Linked DNA regions of Homo sapiens. The protein of the gene in region 1 interacts with the protein of each later gene in a biochemical or structural test. Each region holds a gene or a part of one and is shown on either strand. Other genes may lie near its edges.

Evidence for each region.
Region 2: the proteins of SEC16A (region 1) and MIA3 form a complex in vitro, tested with the Homo sapiens proteins (one study listed by BioGRID).

Annotation. Positions count from the first base shown.
Region 1 is NC_000009.12:136,472,212-136,480,323, reverse strand, and holds part of SEC16A (protein transport protein Sec16A), read left to right. Parts: intron 1-1,493; 5' UTR 1,494-1,615; intron 1,616-2,639; 5' UTR 2,640-2,708; coding exon 2,709-6,275; intron 6,276-8,112. UniProt on the Homo sapiens protein: Acts as a molecular scaffold that plays a key role in the organization of the endoplasmic reticulum exit sites (ERES), also known as transitional endoplasmic reticulum (tER).
Region 2 is NC_000001.11:222,627,312-222,635,423, reverse strand, and holds part of MIA3 (transport and Golgi organization protein 1 homolog isoform 1 precursor), read right to left. Parts: intron 7,850-8,112; coding exon 5,035-7,849; intron 3,260-5,034; coding exon 3,098-3,259; intron 2,321-3,097; coding exon 2,175-2,320; intron 1-2,174.

The DNA.
Region 1 (8,112 bases):
TGTCTTGAGAGATGAGGTAGGACCCCAGTTCTGGCAGCAGAGTTTCAGGAGGTGCTTGGAAGTTTGCGTGTTCTGGCCGTGGTTGCAGGTGTCGCTGTGTCTGCTGTGGCTGTGCAGCTGGTAGGACCCAGTGGAAGATAATGCCAGTGCACAGATCAGAGGAAGATGCTCTGCCTGTTCTCCTTTCAGTCCATATAAAATAGAGCTGTGAACATTCTTTGTTTTCAGATGAGAGCCTAAAACCTCCATGAAGCCTTTGCTGCTGTTCCTAGTAAATAGCTTGACTTAAAATACATTGATCAGTGTTTTCTTCTTTTTTTTTTTGAGACAGTTTCACTCTGTCGCCCAGGCTGGAGTGTTGTGGCTTGAACAAGGCTCACTGCAGCCTCAACCTCCCTGGCTCAAGCGATCTTCCCACCTCAGCCTCCCGAGTAGTTGGGACTACAGGCACGCACCACCACGACCGGCATTTTTTTTTTGGTGATGGGGTATCGCTGTGTGTTGCCCAGGCTGGTCTCAAACTGCTGAACTCGAGTGGTCCTCCTACCTCCCAAAGTGCTCGGCTTACAGGTGTGAGCCACTGCACCTGGCCAGTGTTTTCTTCTTTTATCTGAATATCAGAAAGATTTCCAAGAGACCAAAATAATATACATCTGCAAAGATGTGTGGATTGGCCAGGCACGGTGGCTCACGCCTGTAATCCCAGCACTTTGGGAGGCCGAGGCGGGTGGATTATGAGGTCAGGAGATCAAGACCATCCTGGCTAACATGGTGAAACCCCATCTCTACTGAAAAGACAAAAAATTAGCCTGGCATGGTGGCAGGTGCCTGTAGTCCCAGCTGCTCAGGAGGCTGAGGCAGGAGAATGGCATGAACCTGGGAGGCGGAGCTTGCAGTGAGCCGAGATCGCACCACTGCACCCCAGTCTGGGCGACAGAGCAAGACTCCGTCTCAAAAAAAAAAATGTGTGGATTAAACTACAGAGTCCTCCCCTTTGGTTTAATTTTTCCTTTGATTGGCTAAACTTATCTGTTTGTTCATGAGGGTGGTGCTGACAAGAAGAAAGACTGATAGAAAGAAAAGAACTTTCCTAAAGATATAGTCCTTGAATTTTTGCCTTAAGAGGCCAGGTTAACTATTCAAGTTTGTATCTACTATGTTTTATTTAAAAACTGATGGAGGTTTTTGCCCCTTTCTTTTCTGTAAGAGGTTTCTTGGCAATTCTGCCTGTTGTTGAAAGTGTTGGAATCCAGTCTGTGCCTTGTAAAGCTGCTTTAAGTTTCCTGGGAGTTTCCATTCCAGGCACAGTTACGGCTCCAGTTCAAAGGTAACATCTTGCTGGTGGTCCTTTCAGACCTTAAGCCAGTCACAGTACAAAAACGGAGACCTATGAAGAGGTGTGATAAAAGGCATTTAGATGAATATATTTATTTTGCAGTGCTTTTTAAAAAAATGATTGTGTCACTTTTTATTTATTTATTTTTTTAAAATAGAGACCGTCTTGCTCTGTTGCCCAGGCTGGACCGCGGTGGTATAATCATAGCTCACTGCAGCCTCGAACTCATGGACACAAGTGATCTTCCTTCCTTAACCCCCTGAGTCCCTGGGACTACAGGTGTGTGCCACCATGTCTGGCTAACTTTCTTCTTTTGTAGAGACAAGGTCTTGCTATGTTGCCCAGGCTGGTCTCGACCTCCTGGGCTCTGGCAGTCCTTCCACCTTGACCTCCCAAAGTGCTGGGATTACAGGCATGAGCCACTGCACCCAGCCTATTTTGCAGCTTTTATAACTATACTTCATAATGCTCTTTCATCAAAGAAAATGGAAGAATGAATTTTAAACTTTTGTATCCCTTTTGAAATTTAAAATTAACATGTATGGAAAGTATGATATAAAGTTTTCCTTTTTTTTTTTTTTTTTTGAGCTAGGGACTCACTGTGTCACCCAGGCTGAAGGGTAGTGGTGCTGTCATAGCTCACGACAGCCTCAACCTCCCAGGCTGACGCAATCCTCCTGCCTCAGCCTCCTGAGTAGTTGGGACTACAGGTGTGCACCACCATGCCTGGCTGATTTTTGTATTTTTTGTAGAAACGAGATCCCCCTGTTGCTCAGGCTGGCCTCGAATTCCTGGGCTCAAGTGGTCCTCCCGCCTTGGCCTCTTAAAGTGTTGGGAGTACAGGCGTAAGCCACCATATCTGGCCAGTTTTTCTTTCTTAATAGAAGAGTTGGCTCTTCCTGGATCTAGGGATGGTTTACAGGAAAACATTGAGTATCTGTGGGTCTGGTAGCATATCACAGCAGTGGTCAGGTTCCGCACTGTCCCTGTTGTTGTGGCGCGGGTCTGCGGCAGCAATGGGCCCTGTGAGTAGAGGATCCCAGGGGAGGGAGTGGCCATCTAGACATACTCCATCAGCTCGCAGCCAGGCCATCCAGGGTTCTCACTCTGTCCCCTGCCCCCCAGAACAGTTCCTCAGGGACAGGTGTTCTCTGCTGGGGTGGGGTGTAGGGGAGAGAGAGTCCTTGGGATTTAAGTGACATAAAATCATGTTCAATGTTTCTCTTTTTCCTTAGTTTTCCTGATTGCAGCTAGGACTTTGAATATATGGATTTTATGCTGATTTTCTCTTTTTCTTTTCCAGCTCCAATTAAGGAACAGCTATATCCTGCTTCCTTCTGTAAGCAGCATCGACTTGTGCAAGGGTTCAGTCATGCAGCCACCGCCCCAGACGGTCCCGTCTGGCATGGCTGGGCCACCTCCAGCCGGGAATCCTCGGAGCGTGTTCTGGGCTAGCAGCCCTTACAGGAGACGGGCTAATAATAATGCAGCAGTGGCTCCGACAACTTGCCCGTTGCAGCCGGTCACGGATCCATTTGCTTTTAGTAGACAGGCGCTCCAAAGTACACCACTGGGCAGTTCGTCCAAAAGCAGTCCACCTGTCTTGCAAGGCCCAGCCCCCGCAGGGTTTTCTCAGCACCCCGGTTTGCTTGTTCCTCACACACATGCCAGAGATAGCTCTCAGGGACCCTGTGAGCCCCTGCCTGGACCTCTGACACAGCCCAGAGCACATGCCAGTCCGTTTTCTGGTGCATTGACACCTTCAGCACCTCCTGGGCCTGAGATGAACAGGAGTGCAGAGGTCGGTCCCAGTTCAGAGCCTGAAGTTCAGACTCTGCCATATCTTCCTCACTACATTCCAGGAGTGGATCCTGAAACGTCTCATGGGGGCCACCCTCATGGGAACATGCCTGGGCTCGACCGACCCCTGAGCAGGCAAAACCCACATGACGGTGTGGTCACCCCAGCAGCATCCCCTTCCCTCCCTCAGCCTGGTCTGCAGATGCCAGGACAGTGGGGGCCAGTGCAGGGAGGCCCACAGCCCTCGGGGCAACATCGTTCACCCTGCCCTGAAGGACCTGTTCCCAGCGGGGTGCCCTGTGCCACCAGCGTTCCTCATTTCCCCACCCCGTCCATCCTACATCAGGGCCCTGGTCATGAGCAACACAGCCCTCTGGTGGCTCCCCCAGCAGCCTTGCCCAGTGACGGAAGAGACGAGGTGAGCCACTTGCAAAGTGGAAGCCACCTGGCCAATAACTCTGATCCTGAAAGTACATTCAGGCAAAATCCCAGAATTGTGAATCACTGGGCAAGCCCAGAGCTCAGGCAGAATCCAGGAGTGAAGAATGAGCACCGGCCCGCCTCTGCTCTTGTGAACCCCCTCGCCCGGGGAGATAGCCCAGAAAACCGTACGCACCACCCACTGGGGGCTGGGGCCGGGTCTGGCTGTGCCCCGCTAGAAGCAGACTCAGGAGCTTCAGGAGCTCTGGCGATGTTTTTCCAAGGGGGAGAGACAGAAAATGAGGAGAATCTCTCATCTGAAAAAGCAGGCTTATCTGGTCAAGCGGACTTTGACGATTTCTGCTCCAGCCCTGGGCTAGGCCGTCCGCCCGCACCTACACACGTGGGGGCAGGCAGCCTCTGCCAGGCCCTTCTCCCAGGCCCCAGCAATGAGGCTGCTGGTGATGTGTGGGGTGACACAGCGAGCACAGGGGTGCCGGATGCCAGCGGCTCGCAGTATGAGAATGTTGAGAACTTAGAATTTGTTCAGAATCAAGAAGTTCTGCCAAGTGAGCCCCTCAATTTGGACCCTTCCTCCCCGAGTGACCAGTTCAGATATGGGCCCCTTCCTGGGCCAGCTGTGCCCAGGCATGGTGCTGTGTGCCACACCGGAGCCCCTGATGCCACACTGCATACAGTGCACCCTGACAGCGTGTCATCCAGCTATAGCAGCAGAAGCCACGGAAGGCTCTCAGGCTCAGCCAGGCCCCAGGAGCTGGTTGGCACATTCATTCAGCAAGAAGTTGGAAAACCCGAGGATGAAGCTTCAGGTAGTTTTTTTAAGCAAATCGATTCTTCTCCCGTAGGAGGTGAAACAGACGAGACCACTGTGAGCCAGAATTACCGTGGCAGCGTGTCCCAGCCCTCAACCCCGAGCCCCCCGAAACCTACAGGAATATTTCAGACAAGTGCAAATAGTTCTTTCGAACCGGTAAAATCTCACTTAGTTGGGGTAAAACCATTTGAGGCAGATCGCGCCAACGTGGTTGGTGAAGTAAGGGAGACCTGTGTCCGCCAGAAGCAGTGCAGACCAGCTGCCGCCCTGCCCGATGCTTCCCCTGGCAACCTGGAGCAGCCACCAGACAACATGGAGACCCTCTGTGCACCCCAGGTCTGTCCCCTGCCTCTTAACTCCACCACGGAAGCTGTGCACATGCTTCCGCACGCAGGGGCACCGCCCTTGGATACTGTGTATCCAGCACCCGAGAAGAGGCCTTCAGCCAGGACCCAGGGGCCCGTGAAGTGTGAGAGCCCAGCAACGACTCTGTGGGCGCAAAGTGAGCTGCCAGATTTTGGAGGCAACGTCCTTCTGGCCCCTGCAGCCCCGGCGCTTTATGTGTGTGCAAAACCTCAGCCACCTGTTGTTCAGCCTCCAGAAGAGGCGATGTCCGGGCAGCAGTCACGGAACCCAAGCTCGGCGGCCCCGGTGCAGAGCCGAGGTGGCATTGGTGCTTCTGAGAACCTTGAGAATCCTCCCAAAATGGGAGAGGAGGAGGCCCTTCAGTCCCAGGCGAGTTCTGGTTATGCAAGTTTATTATCCTCACCGCCCACTGAGTCTCTGCAGAATCCTCCAGTCTTGATTGCTCAGCCTGATCACAGCTATAATCTGGCTCAGCCCATTAACTTTTCTGTGTCCTTATCGAACTCTCATGAGAAGAATCAGTCCTGGAGAGAGGCTTTGGTGGGGGATAGACCTGCAGTCAGCAGTTGGGCTCTCGGTGGTGATTCTGGGGAGAACACTTCTTTGTCTGGGATTCCAACCAGCTCTGTCCTTAGCTTGTCTCTGCCTAGCAGTGTTGCCCAAAGTAATTTTCCACAAGGTTCTGGTGCTTCCGAAATGGTTTCTAATCAGCCTGCTAATTTGCTGGTTCAACCACCATCCCAGCCAGTTCCAGAGAACTTGGTTCCAGAAAGTCAAAAGGATCGTAAGGCAGGAAGTGCTCTTCCCGGATTTGCTAATAGCCCTGCTGGAAGCACAAGTGTGGTGTTAGTTCCACCTGCACACGGCACCCTGGTGCCTGATGGTAATAAGGCAAACCATTCCAGTCATCAGGAAGACACTTACGGAGCCCTAGACTTTACCTTAAGCAGGACTTTGGAAAATCCTGTAAACGTGTACAACCCGTCCCATTCTGACAGCCTCGCTTCTCAGCAAAGTGTTGCCAGTCATCCCAGACAATCTGGGCCTGGGGCGCCTAACCTTGACCGTTTTTATCAGCAGGTCACGAAAGATGCCCAGGGCCAGCCTGGCCTCGAAAGAGCCCAGCAGGAGCTGGTGCCACCCCAGCAACAGGCTTCTCCCCCACAACTACCCAAAGCCATGTTTTCGGAGCTGTCAAATCCAGAAAGTCTGCCCGCACAGGGACAGGCCCAGAACTCAGCACAGTCACCAGCAAGTCTGGTTCTGGTCGACGCGGGTCAGCAGCTGCCCCCTCGGCCTCCTCAGTCCTCTAGCGTGTCTCTGGTGTCCAGTGGCTCCGGCCAGGCAGCTGTGCCGTCAGAGCAGCCGTGGCCACAGCCAGTGCCTGCACTTGCCCCCGGCCCACCGCCTCAGGACCTGGCCGCCTACTACTACTACCGGCCTTTGTACGATGCCTACCAGCCTCAGTACTCTTTGCCGTACCCACCGGAGCCTGGCGCAGCCTCCCTCTATTACCAGGTAAGAGTCGAGTCGTATGTGTAACCCACTTTTCTGTCTGTGCTTTGACCAGTTGAGTCTCACTCACAGTGTATTCCTTAGTAGTGTTTGTTCGCTTGGTTCCGGGGTCACCCACAGTCCCGCAGGCGTGAGAACAGTATTCCAGTAACGCTTCCTGAGGACAGGGCTCCCGGCTCCAGAACCTACTCTCCCAAGCACAGGCCACCCTTAGTTCACACCACGCGTTAGCATCTTGAATTGCTTATAATACTTGCTTAGGATTTGAACCAGCCTCCCCAGCTTATGTGACAAAAAGAGCCCTCCATTTGCTGTCACCCCTGCTCCTGCTGGCTGTCTGCAGAAAAGTTCTGTCTTGCATGCCTTGGGAAGCTGGGCTAGCCTCTGGAAGCTTACGTCAGAAGCATTGGGTATAACCATAGTCCTTTAAATGCCCCTGGAGAATAAAAACATGGAGAGAAAATAGTTTTGGAGCATGAGCCACACGCATCAGCTAAGCGAGGCGGAGTCCCGCAAGCTGCTGTCAGCACGTGGTGGTGCGGGCAGCGGCTCGGGGACCGGCTGTGCTCGTGCAGAAGATTCTTCTGTGCCTCTTTTTCACAGGGACACCAGCTCATGAGTGACATTTGAGTTAGGTTCCGCATAATCCTGCAGTCGTTCGAAAAGTGTCTGTGTACACATTTGATCATTATCTGCTTTTCCTACCCTCTAACCCAGTTCAACATACACCGATTGGGTTCACCGATTCAGTGTCACCCCAGGTAGAAGGATTGTGTGATAGGGAATTGGAAAACCATGGTCTTGCGGTATGTAAGGCCAGTTGGAACCAGACTTGGGGCCACACAGGAAGGCCTTGCAGTCAGAAGGGGGCCCGCCCCGAGGAGCAAGGCTGCCGTGGCTTGCTGGGTACTGCCCCGGGGAATGGGGCTGGGCCTCCCCCATGGGCCTCGAGCATCATGGTTTGTGTGCGTGTGACCAGGTGCACACCTGACCCCTCAGACCTGTGTAGGTTCCAGAAGGAGCCCAGGCACTTTTTATTTCCATACAAGGACATTCAGCTCTGCTGGGAGCCCTGGGGTGGGGCTGGTGCAGAGCGACGGGAAGCCGTGGCCTCACTTCGGGTCCTTTGTCCGGTCCTCCTGCTGCGAGCCACCTCCCTCCGCAGGAGTGCACTCCTCCCGCCGTGCCTCTTGCTGTGGTGTCCGGGTGGCCAAGGATGAGTCTGTTTTGCTGTGATTTCACATTTCCTGCCAGGCAGCGGCAGCGTCGAGGCCTTGAGGCTTTGAGGCGCTTAAGCGTGAATTCTGGCGTGTGTCCGGGGCACTGCATGTCTTCAGATCCTCATGTGTCCACATGGGCCCCGTTGGGAACAATTCTGTGGCCACGAATTGGTTGGTGATGGGGCTGAAGCCTCCCGAGAATAAAGCACGGTCCGCTTTTAGAGGCTGCTCCTGGCTGGGGCTCTGTTCACTGGGACCCTGGTTCTCTGACTTAACTGAGGTGGCATCTGAAGCGGGACGCAGGGGTTGTTCAAATCATGGCATCTCCACACTGGACTTATCAGGAAGCAGAAACCTAACAGCCCCTTCCAGAAGTCGCCACAGCCCCCTGGGGTTGTCTGCTGACATGCTGGTGCCCTGGGTCCATCCAGAGGTCTCCTGAACAGGGCCAGGGCTGTGGGTCTTAGGACACCCTGCTGCCTGTGGGTGTGGCTGTGCTTTGGAGGTCTGTGTGGTTGTGTATGAGGGAAGGGCCACGCTCAGTCCTGCTGGAGAGCAGCCATCTGCGATGTTTCTAGCTCAGGCTGGTTGTTGGACGAGCTTGCTCTTGGTAGGTATCT
Region 2 (8,112 bases), on another chromosome or scaffold:
GCGCCCTTATATCTTGCCATTCATGTCTGTCATTCCCTGTTATCCCCTGATCACAGATCGTATCCTACACCACTCCTATATGCCCCAACCCAGGCCTAGAAGAGGGCTCTGTGCGTATCTAGAAATACAATGAATAAAGAATTCCTTCTACAACTGGGGCTGTTAAATTTTTCAAGTGATAATTTCACTCTGAAAACCAAATTCTGAATTCTGAGACTGTCTTAATCCCTGAAAACTTCATTATTCCAACTGCAAAGATAATACACACCTTCACCCAGGTGGCTATCACCAGAACAAACATGAATAATACTGAAAAATGGTTTGGTTTTCCTACTTGTTTTCCATCCTGGTGGTCTTTCTCCTGAAACCCTCAGGTATTCAATGTCTTTATATGCCCTCTGACCATCCAAATGAGAATTAGGTGAGGGATGAGATCTTACAAAATGCCAGTTGCTACACCAGACATTTTACATTATCATGTCATTTAATTCTTACCAACAATTGGAGTATGTATTATCTAAATTTTTCAGATGAGAAAGTTGAGGTTCAAAGTTTAGTAATTTGCCCTAAACTTCTAATCGATAGCTTTGGGATTTGAAATAAAATCATCTTGGCTTGAAACCCATGGATTTTAACAGAAAAACAACAAGAACGCTCTTTCCTATTCGAGTCTTGAAATAACAGAACCTAAAGGAAATGGCTTTGGTGAGAAGCATACTTTCTCTGTAGCCCTAAGGGCAACCTGGCCTCCAACTTCAAGAGCTTGCTTAGTCCTCTAATTTACCAAGAAAAAAAGTCCAATTCCACCGAGTACCACAAGGGGGAGCTAAGTCCTAAAAAGCCTAGATAAGCTTCTAGACATTAAATGTCTCATTTGGAGCATGGCTCCCTTTAGAAAGATCTGAATAAATATTCTGCCATAAGTGACTCTTTCTAAGAAACAGACCTGACAATCCCTTTCCTGCTTAAAATCTTCCAAGGATCTCTGCCAACAATGGTCTGACCACTCACTATGGTGTACAATTTCCTTTCTGACTTTCCCTGAGTCCCTCCAACAGACCTTCTCCCTCCTAACTCCATACTTTTTTATTTTTATTTTTTCTGAGGCAGGGTCTTGCTCTGTCGCTCAGGCTGGAATGCAGTGGCACGATCTCAGCTAATTGCAACCTCTGCCTCCCGGGCTCAAGCTATTCTCCTGCCTCAGCCTCCCAAGTAGATGGGATTACAGGTGTGCACCACCCTGCCCAGCTAATTTTAACTCCACACTTTAACAACACCAACTGGCCGGGAATGGTGGCTCACGCCTGTAATCCCAGCACTTTGGGAGGCCAAGGTGGGCAGCTCCCATGGGCTCAGGAGTTCGAGACCAACCTGGGCAACATCACAAAACCCCACCTCTACAAAAAATAGCCAGGCATGGTGGTGCACACTTGTGATCCCAGCTACTCAGGAGACTGAAGCAGGAGGATCGCCTGAGCCCAGGAGGCAGAGGTTGCAGTGAGCTGAGATCACGCCAATGCACTCCTGCCTGGGCAACAGAGCAAGACCCTGTCTCAATTTAAAAAAAAAAGAAAAAGAAAAAACACCAACTACCCACGCTTCCCTGGCTTCCCCAAATAACCTTTTCTTCATGCCTCCATTTCTCTGAATGTGTTATTTCTTCTGCCTGACTGCATGCTGCCCGCCCCCCTGCCCACATCCTTCCCCTAGCCCTTCTATTTGACAACTCCAAGTCAAGCTCCCATCTCTTTCGAATCTGCTTAAAGCATATCTCAGCGAATTTCTGGCCTTTCCTATCACTCTCCCTCCACGATGAACCAATTTATGCCACAGATTGTTCTACCATCAGGTAAATACTTCTCTTCCTGCCCATTATCATGTTACATTTCAAGTGACTGTCTTTCTCTCCTGGCTAAACTGAAAGGTCCCTGAAAGGAAGAACCACGTTTGACAGGTGTGCTTGTGCCCAGCTCCAGCATGCAGCAAAGCCTCCTCATGTGCTGAACTAAGAGCCCATTAAAGCCACACACCTGTGGCTCATTTCAGGGTCTCTCTTCAAAGGATCAGGAGTCAGGTTCATAAAGACATTTTAAGTTCTTCACCTCATGCTCAAAATCAACTTAAAAACTGTAATAATCAACATTTTAGTTAAAAAAAAACTATGTTAAACTTACCGACTTAGTTAAATAAAACATGAATGAATATATTAGAAGGATTGCGTTTTCCAAAGGTGTGACACTTGCCGGCTCTTCGGCGGCTGTCTCTGGTTGCTTGTTTGCATCAATAGCATCCATAGGAGTGTCTTCTGTTGTAACTGGCCCTGGAATTGGGAGGAAAGATAGACATTTTGTGCTTTAGAATAAGAATTCTCTTTAAAAAATACTTATTGAGTATCCACTAAATATTAGGCACTGTGCCTGGAAAGTAAACGTTCTCATCTCTCACTGGATGTTTACTGTGCACTGTGGTGAAATACTCTTTGTGTCGGTCTATCCTGGACTATTACACACTACAGTGTTCTGTACTGTCTCCTATGAGCTTATGCTATAAACATACTTGGACCCCTTCACTGTATTTTAAGAAGTTTTACTTACCATGTCCAGATAGCAAATCAAAAAAAAGAACTGCATTGCATTGTATTTTATTTGGAAAGAGAGGGGTAAAGTAGAGGAAAAACAGAATTTGTGAGTTTTAGAGCAGTGGTTCTCCAACTGTAATTTGCATCAGGTCAGTCTTTCCTGGAGGGCTTGTTAAACACAGATTGCCGGTTCCACCCCCAGAGTTTCTGATGCTGCTGGGCTGGTTGAAAACTACTGTTTTAGAGCATAAGGCCTTTTAAGAATAATATTTTAGATTGAAATAATTTACACAAGATAGTGACAGCCAAACATTGGTTTGTAGGTTAGTTATAGTCTCTGGTGTCTTTCCTATTTTTGATCTCCATCTGTCTTGACGCCTGCTTTTCTCTCAATTAGCTCTGGGATCCTTTTTTCCTTTGAATTTAACAAGTCTCTAGCTCCTGCCTTTGACAATGAATCTCCTAGAAGGCCTTCTTTATGATTTCTCCACTTTGTAGAAAAAAATTAGCAGGCTTTACCTGGGTCCAGGTCTTTCTCAGTATTTGGCTTCTGTGACACTTCTGAGGCATGAGTGTCCCCAATCACACGTTGGTCCAAGTGGGTGGGTTCTTCAGGAACCTGCACATTAAGTTCTGCTGTCTTCTCTCGTGAGAAATTATCTTCATGCAGTGGTTGCATCTCTAGGGTGAGAAGAATACACTGGGCTAGCACAGCTTGATGACACTACCTGTTAGGCTAATCCCACTGACCACACCAGGGCACCTCAACATTGACCTCCATGCATGGGCATCCCATGGAGCACAACTGGGCAGGGAAATAAGAGTTTCAGTTTCTTTTATTCCATTTAAAGGATGACTAATCTACATAATAAAATCTACAGAGGAGTATTTCATAAATAAATACATTTATGGTAGGGACTTCAGTAACATCTTTCCTTGGCAAATCAGCCTACACCCACACAAATAAATGTGCAAATGAGAATTCCACTCAAGAGCAGAAATGTGAAACATCTATTCTGCAGAGAAGTAACATGAACTCTTGCATACCCTAGCATGCCTTTCTCACAGAACTAGTACAGACAGGGACATTCCACGCCAAGGCAGCTTGCTGAGATGTCTTTCGAATACTTTCAAAGTACCTCTAAGAGTCAAACAAAGTGAAGCCATCTCCTCTCCTAAGAGGCTTAGGGGACAGTCCAATGTGATCCACAGCAAAGGTGAATTTCCTTGTAGCCTCATATTTTACCCTGAAAATTCATCTGAATATTGCCTTCTTATCCAAAATATATGTTTTAATTAAATGCAAAAAAGTTCTCCTCCCCCATTTCTTAGGAAAAATTAGCACTCTGGAGTAATACGTTTTCCTGTGGCTTCCTGTCCCCTTGGTACTCTCAATTCAGATACATCTGTCTGAAAAGCCTGGATATACCAGGTGCGGTAGCTCACACCTGTAATCCCAGTACTTTGGGAGGCCAAAGTAGGAGGGTCACTTGAGGCCAAGAGTTCAAGATCAACCTGGGCAACATACCAAGACCCTGTCTCTACAATAAATAAAAATTATTTGGGCACAGTGATGCATGCCTGTAGTCCTAGCCACTTAGGAGGCTGAGATGGGAGGTTCGCTTGGGCCTAGGAGTTGGAGGCTGCAATGAGTTATGATCATGCCACTGTACTCCAGCCTGGGTGACAGGGTGAGAGCCTGTCTTAAGAAAAAAAAAAAGAAAAGAAAAAAAGAAAGAGGAAGGAAGGAAGGAAGGGCAGGTGGGCAAAGGGAAAGAAAAGAAAAGAAAAGAAAGAGAAAAGCCTGGATGCAGAGAATAGAACAAGGAACTAGGAATCAGAATGCTTATGTCAGGATATTGGCTCGGGGTTAATTCAACTGAATGGCTTCCACGCATCAAGCACTGCATTCGAAGGCATCCCTGTCCCAATCTTGATTAATCTGCATGCAAGAACCTTACGGCCCAGGAGGGTTTAACTGGAGTAAGTGCTCCCAAGAAACAGGAAGAACAAGCCATCCACAAAAGATAAAATTGGGGAGAACGTAGGAATTTAGCCAAGGCATTGATCTAAAAGTTATACCAGTCAATCCATGGTTACAGAGCAGTTATCTGACGACTGAAAAATTGTGTTCAATAAAACCCTTTCATAATTTTACATGACATTTGTATTTTGTATATTACTTTCTGGTTTATATCTTTCTCTTTAGCTTTTTACAAAGTTTCCTTTTGAAAATGCTAACCAGTCTCAACTATTCTAAGGGAAACGGCAAGAAATTCTTCTCCATGCTCCAGCCTAAAAGAAAGATGGCAGGAAGGAACATGTGGACCTCCCTGTGTTGTCCCTCTCCTTTAGGCACATTGGAAACTGAACAGAGCTTCACAAGATAGGAGGCACCTCAGCGACCCACCCACCTGCTTCTCCAGCCCTGTTCTACAAGGCCATAGGCATCTCACCTTCCATTGCTCCACCCAAGCCTTCCTCTAGAGGTGGTGCCATCACCAGTGTGGCTGTCTCCTCTGCTGTGGAGTGCTTGTACCTGACAAAATAGATGAGGTCTTGAATGTCATCAAGCACTGCAGCCTCTTCAAATATGTTATTTTCGTTCATTCCCAGATCTCTATTTTCAGCCACACGAGTATCAAGCATTTTTTCTGCTATGCTCAGAATTTGTGACTCAGAAGCACGGAAGACCTTATCTAGGACTTTTTCCATATTATAGGGCAGGCTCTCCTGCTGCGCTGACTTCAGTTTTGATGACATTTCTTGTAGCAAGGCTTCCAGCTCATGGACATTAAAGTACTTCTGGAACCGCTGCAAAGACTGTTGTTCTTTAAAGAAGCTGCTTATGATAAGTAAGTCCTCCCTCTTGTCACTATGCCCTGGCTCTACACTTGTATGTGGAGTCCAGTGGAACGAGTCATCTTCAGGTTCTGCAGCAGCAGACCCCTGGCTTTCTGTGCCCATGTACTTCTCTGTGTTCTCATGGTCCTCTTTTGAGAGTTCTCCCTCAGGCTCCCCTGCAAGCCCTGAGGTCTTCAGATGTTCCTCAGGGTTGTCGTTCTTCAGATAATCAGAATCTTTATTCTGAAACACTTCACCTAATTCTGGAGTCTGAATTTTTATGCTGTCAGAAAAGTCACTTCGTTCAAATGGTCTCTGTGCTTTCTTATCTGCCAGAGGGCGTTCTTTTTCCACCATTGTATTTGGTTCCCTGCCTCCTGTGTTGACCCCTTTGGCAGCAGTCTCACTTGTTTTTTCGCTATCCAAAATCATACTAGTTTCTTGCTTGCTTTCTTCAATTTCTGGATCTGGATGAATGGTCCCTAAAACTGCTCTGTCAGGGACTTGCAGATTAACATCAAACTGCCTGCCCTGATTCCCAGGGTTTTTTTCTTTAGACCGTTTTGCATTTATAGCGTTTTCATCCTCTAGTAGTTCTTCAGAGGGATAATCATCCTCTTCTACTTTAGAAAGGAAAGCTGGTCCTCCTGTGCTGTCAGTTTGGTCTGTCTGTCCTACCTCTGTGCCCTGCATTGCCTTGTGATGAAAAAACTCTTCATCCAAGGAGTCCTCTTTGGCTTCTCCCTCAGAGAGCCTTATCTTCTCACTCATTTGCTTACTGGCTGTGGCAGCCACATCTCTTTCTTGTTGCCAGGGAAGATTTCTTCCCAGAATGGGAACCTCGTCTTCCAGTTCTCTGGGCAAATCAATCTCATCTGGAGAGGAGAATCTAGGTTGGTTTTGAGTTTTAAGAACTAATTCCTCTTTCAATTCCTCACGTTGATGCTCCACTGAAAGCGTGTGCAGTTTGGCCCCATTTACCAAAGCGTCTCCCTCCACACTGTCTCTGGATGCGTTAGGGTGGTCATCTCCCATGAGTGGTGCACTACCCAGGGATTCCTGTTGAATCTTTCTGTCATTCATTTGATTCCCTGCAGCTTTCTGTGCAGATTCACTCTCTGAGCCACCTTCCAAAATCTGCTCTCCAGGCTTTTCTTCGTGGAGCATTCCTTTTGAGATATGAATAGCTGCTCCTTTTAGGTCATTTTCTGTATCATCATAAGCTGATTTTAATGTGTCTTTACCCTTTTCAGCAGCTGGCATAGAGTTGAGGTTATTGCTGTGAACAGAACTGTGCACAGTCATGCCTTCTTGATTTTCATCCTCTAATTCTGTCTTATCTTGTACCAGGCCCCTCTTGGATTCCTGAACTCCCCTCCCTTTTCCTTTAATGTGATGTTCTGCGTTTACTTCTTTGTCATTATTTGTTTTAGGAATGTCTACAATAAAAAGACCATCATCTACATTGTCAGGGTCACTATAATCTGTTGCTGACTGTGGTTTCCCCTGTTTGCTATCTGGGACTAATGCATCATCATCATCTTCTTTTTCTTCCTCTGAACTAGAGCTCTCTAAATCCATCGTATCTCTTGTTTCTTCACCTCCTGTGACAATAGAGAAGATAGTGTCCCCCCAGGTTGTTAGTATATTTTTATCATCATTTTTGATGCCAGGGGGCACAGTTAGCTGAACCTTGTCCTCTTCATTTGAATTCTGCTCTTTATCTGTTGGATATTTCTCAACGCCAGACTTTGCTGGAGTTTTCATATCTTCCCCATCTGTAAAGGTAAGTAATGGCAACTCATCAAAGTCTTCTTGGTTCTCCTCATCTTCCTTTCCAACTGCATAATACTCAGTATCCAATTCCTCATCAAAATCATCTTCTAATGAAGTAACGAGTCTGGTTGTCTCATCATCAGATACAAGTGCATCAGCTGTTGAGCCAAATTTGGTTTTCAAGTCTAGAGTCATTTCTTTTTTCAAAAGTTTATAGGCATCAATCTTATCCTGTTCATTTGAGACCTGAGAACTATTGCTGGTTTTGTTGTTTTCACTTTCTGGCACTTTTAGTTTATCTTGCAGCATTTCTTCAAAAGATTCAAATGAAGCCTGCTCTCCCTGAGCATGATTTGCTTGGCTGTTTGCATGGGAGTGGTGCTTCTGAGTTGTAAACTGTTCCTGAAGATCCTCAGTGTTTTCTGAGAATACACTATCACTTTCCTCTGAGTTGGCTTCTACTGGTTCAGGTTCAGGTTCCCTTTCCTTAGATAATTCAGGGTTTTTTTCCATATCCTGTAAAGTTTTTTCTACAGCTTTCTCAGAATCTGTAGCTGCAGAATTGTACAGTTCCAAAAACCCTAAAAGTTCTTCTACATTATAATTATGAAAATCATCTCTTCCTCCATCAAAACAAACAAAATCCGTCTCCTGTAAGAAAAAGAAAAACATTAGTCTGTCAATAGCCAAGTGTCACCAGAGCAAAGTCTTATCCACGTTAATGATTGAGATAATCTCGAATTCACGTTTGGCTCTAGAGGAGCTTTTGCGTCAACACTGGGCACTGACTGTTCTTGGGCAGTGGGTGGATAGGAGGCTGGAACCCACTTTCCCATCTGAGTAATACTCCTGGCTTCCCTTCATTCTCTCTTCCCCAGGGGAAGAATGATTCATGTGGCTGGTGAGTTTGCTCA